2 separate regions of the Homo sapiens genome follow, and region 1 is linked to region 2. Evidence: fine-mapped expression QTL. A gene starts in region 2. The other region holds a variant in brackets. All regions are shown on one strand. Distances are from middle to middle.

Region 1 (2,908 bases), 71 kb before region 2:
TACTGTTTCACAGTTTTTTTTTTTGAGATGGAGTCTCGCTCTGTCGCCCAGGCTGGAGTGCAGTGGCACAATATGATACCGACTCACTGCAAGGTCCGCCTCCCAGGTTGACACCATTCTCCTGCCTCAGCCTCCTAAGTAGCTGGGACTACAGGCACCCACCACCATGCCCGGCTAATTTTTTTTGTATTTTGAGTAGAGACAGGGTTTCACCGTGTTAGCCAGGACGGTCTCGATGTCCTGACCTCGTGATCCGCCCACCTCGGCCTCCCAAAGTACTGGGATTACAGGTGTGAGCCACCGCGCCAGGCCTGCTGTTTTACATATTTTTTTTAACAAGGCTACTAGAAAATTTGCAGTTACATATGTGGCTCACACTGGTAAAGCATGTTATATTTTTCTCGGACAGTGTTGCTGGAGACCTTAACATGCTCCATGAGAACAGAGGCTGTAGCTAGATTGTTCCTGCTCTATCCCTGTGCTTAGAACAGCACCTGCCACAGAATATGTGATGAATAGTATTTTGCTGAATTAACAAATGAATGAACGGTATGCTGGGCACAGTGGCTCATCCCTGTAATCCCAGCACTTTGGGATGCGGAGGCGGCAGGATCACGTGAACCCAGGAGCTCAAGGCTATGATGCCACCACTGCACTCCAGCCTGAGTAACAGAGGGATATCCCATCCCAAAAAAGAAAAAGAAAAAAAGACTGTAAGAGGTTGCCTCGTTCATATCCTGGTTGTTAAGAACAGTTTATACTCATGCTGCATTTTAAAGTTCTCCAAAGAATCACCAGGTGCTACATTCATGGAATTTCAAGTTTTCACTTGCCAGTCCCAGCCGCCATGGGCACCAGCTTTCTCTCCAGACACTGGATTCCGTGAACACAGCCAGCTCTGCTGCCCTCTTAGCTGACTCCACACCCCAAGAGAGAAGACAGGGCTTGAGCGAAGCATCCGCGACAGCCAGGTAGCCAGAAGGTCCCACAAAAGTCAACAGACGTGGGCTCAGGAAGTTTGTCAACCTTGACCAGACAAACACATTCTAAAGGGCCACTCGTACGTGCAGGGAACAGCCCGG[C/T]GGACGGGAGCCAAGGCAAGCAAGGCTGCGCCAACCCCAGAGGAGTCAGGAGGCCAAGACTCAGAGCGTCTAGGAGGCTGAACAAGCGTGGGCCTGAACCAACCAGGTGGGGTCACCTGTCTCCAACCTACGCCCAGGCAAACAGTTCTGCACGCTGGGAAGAAGGCACGCTTAGGTCAGACTCAGGAGCTATGAGGCGTGAGGCCCAGGCCCTGGCACCTGGTGGCCACTGCGGGGCTGGGACCTTCCAGCTCTCTCAGAGGCTTCCCTCCAACCCCCCACCTTTGCCCAAGGCTGTGGATGGGTCTCTGTGCCCTGGGGTGCCTGGTGACTCTGGCGGCCTGCCTGGGCTGGAAGCTCTAACTTGGGAACACTGCTGGTGGGCAGACATGGAGAGAAGGGATTAAGGATTCGAAGAGCCAGAGAAAAACCTAACTTGACTGTTTAAAGCCCTTTTTACACTGGGCTGTAGTTGCTCAGTAGCAAGCTGGCTGTGGGTTTGAACTCCAGCCTTGGCCCTTGTATTCCTGTATGACCTTGAGCAGTGGGATCAATGGCTCATGCTTAGGGTTCACCAAGGTCGGGCTCAGTTCTAAGTACTGGACATAGAGCACCTAATTACAAGAGCCAGCGCTGGTACCACACTCCTGCGATGCAGGCAGTTAAGTGTCAGAGGCGGATTCGAACCCTGGCAGTTCCACCGTCTGTTCACAAGTTACGTGAATTTGAATCCAACTCTACAAGTTGGGCGTCTAGTGGCACAACTCACTCTCATTTATCTAGCACGTCCTAAGCTCCAGGCCCTTACTGCCCTGAATGTATTACTCACTGACCGTCCCTTACTAAATCCTCACGAGAGTACTCAGTGTATTATCCCCTAAATTCAAACCCAAGCAGCTTGGCTCCCACATGACTGCAGCAGATGCTGGGGCACACAGACTCTAGAGCCGCACTGCCCGGCTGGAGTGCCAGCTACACAGCTTGATGATCGCTGTGACCTTGGGCAAGTAACATCCTTTCTTGGTCTCAGTTTCCTCATCTGTGAAACGGGAATCCTAACAGTACTTACCAATGGGGTTGTTCTGAGGGCATTACATGAGTTTTGAAAGCATTTAGCAGAGTGTCTGGCAAACAGGAAGTGTTAAAATCAGAGTCTATTATCTGCCATGCCTGGGATACCTGCGTCACAGGACAGGTGACAAGTAGGTGGTCATCCCAGGGAGGGGTTGGAGGCAAAGCTTGAAATGTTGCCTTTCAACCTCCCAGGATCCTCCCATGTTGCAGACACGTGCATCCCTTCAACAGCCACCTGCGGACCTCTGTGTGCCAGGTGCTACTTGGTTCTCTTTGTCACACCCCAGTGACTGCCTCCAACAGCCTGCCAAGACGCCTCCCAGCCTCCACTGCCCACCTCCTCCAAATCTGTTCTCCACACTCCTGGAGTGAGATTTTTAAACATACATCTGACCTTGTCATGCCCCCCACTAAAACCTCTTTAATTGCTCCCCACTGCCCCTTGGGCTAAATTCCAAACTTTCACAGGGACTAAAAACAGTGGCTTTCGAATTCTTCAACCAAGACTCACAGTAAGAAACCTGTTTTGCAATGCAGTGCAGTGTACACCTTTATAAAACTTCAAATAAAAGTTTCAAAAAACCACACTGACCTCATGTGCAACACACTCTGGTATTTTCGATTCTATTACTTTTCTTCCTGCGATGCTGGCTGTGGCTCACCAAATTGATTTCATAACCCGCTGATGTGTTAAGATCTGCAGTCTGAGCCACAATGGCTCAAGAGCTCTAAGACCAAGGACCCGAAGCCTG
Region 2 (2,908 bases):
CCTCCTGCCCCTCCGCCCTCGCTAACAGCTAGATTCCAATGTTCAGCTCTTCCACTGCACCTCGTAATTAAAAGGTACCTCTTACCGGGGTGATTTATACCTCCACGTTATATTTTAAAAAGTAATTGAAGATTACATAGCATTTCGGGGAAGGGGAAAGAAAAGAAAAGGGTATCCATAAAAACGCAGCATCGGTCTTGCTTTTTAAAAAGAATTCAGACCGCGGCAGGGTGCACGCTGTCAACTCTCAGCCTCGGCTTCGGGGAAGCAGGAACCTCGCACTGCAAAAGGCGCTTCCAGTTCAACAGCTGAGAAAAGCGCACTGAGTCTTTTGCGATAGGAGTACGTTCACCAGTCACGCTTTCCTAGTATTCCTTGAGCTTATAAACTATTTATTGCTGGGGGGGAGGCAGGCAGGAATATATTGAAGGAGCCTGGGCCAGCACGGCCGTTTAACCTCCAGACTTCATGACTAAAAAACAATTCCATTTCCCACTTTCTCCCATTACAACGAAATCCTTGCCGCCTTCTAAACACCCTTCGGATGTAAACTTTTCTAAGTTTCAACTCTACCCGCAGCAGGCGCCAGGATTCCCTGCCCCGGTTCAAAGCCCCAGACCTGAACCAGAGCGGGCCGAGCGCAAACGGACTTTTGAAAAGAAATATATCAATAGCTAGAAGGCAAAGTCTCAGCGGGCCGTTCCAGCCCCAAGCCGGGATTCCAGCGGTTGGCTCTGCTTCTTGGTTATCCCATAAACACTACCTGAGGGCTTGAGTTTGCGGACTGGGGGAGCGCCCCTTATCGCGAACCGCCGGGACCATAATCGAACAAAACGCCAAGGACCCAGCCGCGTCTACACCGCCTGCGCGCCATGCACTTGTCCCGCGCGCGGGAGAGCAAACTTCAGGGTCGTTGCCCCAAAGCGCATGGGGAAACTGGGGCCCCGAGCCTGGGAGAGCCTTTCCAGAGGGGGGCTCTGCTGCTGTCCCCTCTGCCCTTGTGCCTTCCTGGCCCTGGGAGGCCCGTGCGCCCCAGAACGTCCCGACAGCTGCGGAGGCCCCGCTTGGCGAGTGCCAGAAAGAGGCGCAGGGCGAGGGGGTCCCGGTGAACAACTCCCCCCGCCCGGCGAATCCCGGCGGGCGGCCTGGGGTGGGCGCCGCTGGCGGTACTCACCGCGCGCAGTGGAGAGGGCGCCCCGACGCGGTGCGGGCGGGCGGGCGGGCCGGTGCGGGTCCGACGAGGCCGGGCTGACTGCGGCGGGCACGTTGCTGTCTCTGCCGTTGCCGCTGCCTCCGCCTCCTGGGCTGCCGCGGCTGCTGCCTGCGCCGGGAGGACCGGCCCCTTCTCCTCCCTGGGCCGGGCCCTCCCTCTGCCCCCGCCCGGGTCCCCGCGCCGCTGCGTGGGCGCGTGGGGGCGCCGAGGCGCGACGCTGGGCTACGCGGGCGCACACACCCGGCGGCTGGACGCAGGGCGCGGGGCTCTGGCCCAGCACGTGCCGCCGCGCCGCTTCCTGAGCCTGCAGCCGAGCAGAGCGCGCTCACTCTCGCCGGTCCTGGAGGCCAGGGCCCAGCCTCCTCCCCACCCACCGACACCCCGCACCTCCTCCCTCCCCGGGGCAGCACATCCTCCCTGCAACCCAGGCATGACCCCTGTGAAAGGAACGACGGCTCGGAGAGGACCTCAATAGTGACACTAACATTCGTTCACTCAACCACCCATTCATTCATTCAAAATATATTGAGCATCTACTGTGCCAGGTACCACTCCTGAGAGACTCAGCTAGAACAAGACAGACTAGTTTTCTGCCCTCCCGGAACTTGCATTCACATGGAGAGGCAAACCATAAACAAATAACCAAGTAAAGAAGCAAGACAGTTTCAGAAAGTTAGAGTTACAGGGAGAAAAATAATATATGTATCTGCTGTTGGGGAGTGGAGGAGAGGCGGTAATTTTAGCTAGAGCAGTCAGGGAAGACCTCTCTGAGGAGGTGACATCTGAATTATGAGGAAGTGCCATTGGTGTGGTATTTAGGTGAGAACGGTTCAGGGGTCTCCCCTATGTTTCACCCATTTTACAGCTAAGGAAACTGAGGTCTCAAGAGCTTAACTGGTTTAGTGAAAGTGAGAGGTATAGCCCCCTCCACCTACATGCCCAAATCAAGGCACCCCACTTACTCCATCCTCTCATAGCCACCCCCCTTTTAGTCTCCCTGGCAATGAACTGTGTTAATTGGAGTCTATGCAGCCTTTCCTAGCCCGTCACCCACTCTCTAATGTCTATGAATTCCACCGTGGGACACCCAGGATGCTTCAATCCAAAAGCAATATCAACCACTGTCATTTCTTAAGTGCAGTAAAAGACAGGGCACCCAGGTGAATTTGAATTTCAGAGAAACGAGGAATCAGTTGCAGTATATGTCTTATGCGATTGGTTGTACGTACTTATATTTAAAAAGTATTTCTTTTGTCTCCGAAATTCCAATGTAACCGGGGGTCCTATATTTTTATTTGCAACCTTAAGCTCATCCAATGCCCAACTCTTCCTTATCTCATGTAATCCCCAAGAGAGACCCCAAGGTAGCTGCTGTCAGCACACTCATTTCACAAATGAGCAGGTCCAAGCTCAAAGAAGGCAGAAAGTGGCTGAGCCAGGAATGAAATTCAGGCCTGGCTGACTCCAAAGCCGTTGCTCTTGAGCCGTAACAGTCTTCAATTCCAGTTGTAAGTTTACAGGAGCTGATGAAGGTTAAGTTCTTGGGCCCCTGACTTGCTTGGACCCCTTTCTAAGGGGACTTAGAAAAGTGTTCAGATGGTGGCTTGTTGATGTAAAGTTTACAAAAGTCCTTTGCTTTGGACATTTGGCTGCAGGCCGTAGACACCGCTGTCTTTCCACTCCGATTCCCCACCC

Alleles and levels. Alleles are on the strand shown, and positions count from the first base shown. SD is a standard deviation of normalised expression in the study named.
In carriers of allele T in region 1, the expression in thyroid of the gene that starts at base 1,319 in region 2 tends to be higher than with C alone (moderate effect, 0.50 SD a copy in GTEx).

The links. PIP is the estimated chance that this variant, and not a neighbour inherited with it, causes the effect.
Region 1: its variant is fine-mapped to the expression of EYA2 in thyroid (GTEx, PIP 0.98).

Annotation. Positions count from the first base shown.
Region 1 is chr20:46,963,931-46,966,838 of GRCh38, reverse strand. The region is part of intron 1 of EYA2 (EYA transcriptional coactivator and phosphatase 2); the gene reads right to left. Among named protein-coding and RNA genes, the nearest start is that of EYA2-AS1, 64 kb to the right of the region's middle. The variant C/T (reference allele first, on the strand shown) is at 1,083.
Region 2 is chr20:46,893,254-46,896,161 of GRCh38, reverse strand. EYA2 (EYA transcriptional coactivator and phosphatase 2) reads right to left here and starts at 1,319. Exons shown (of 16, transcript NM_005244.5): 1 at 1,175-1,319.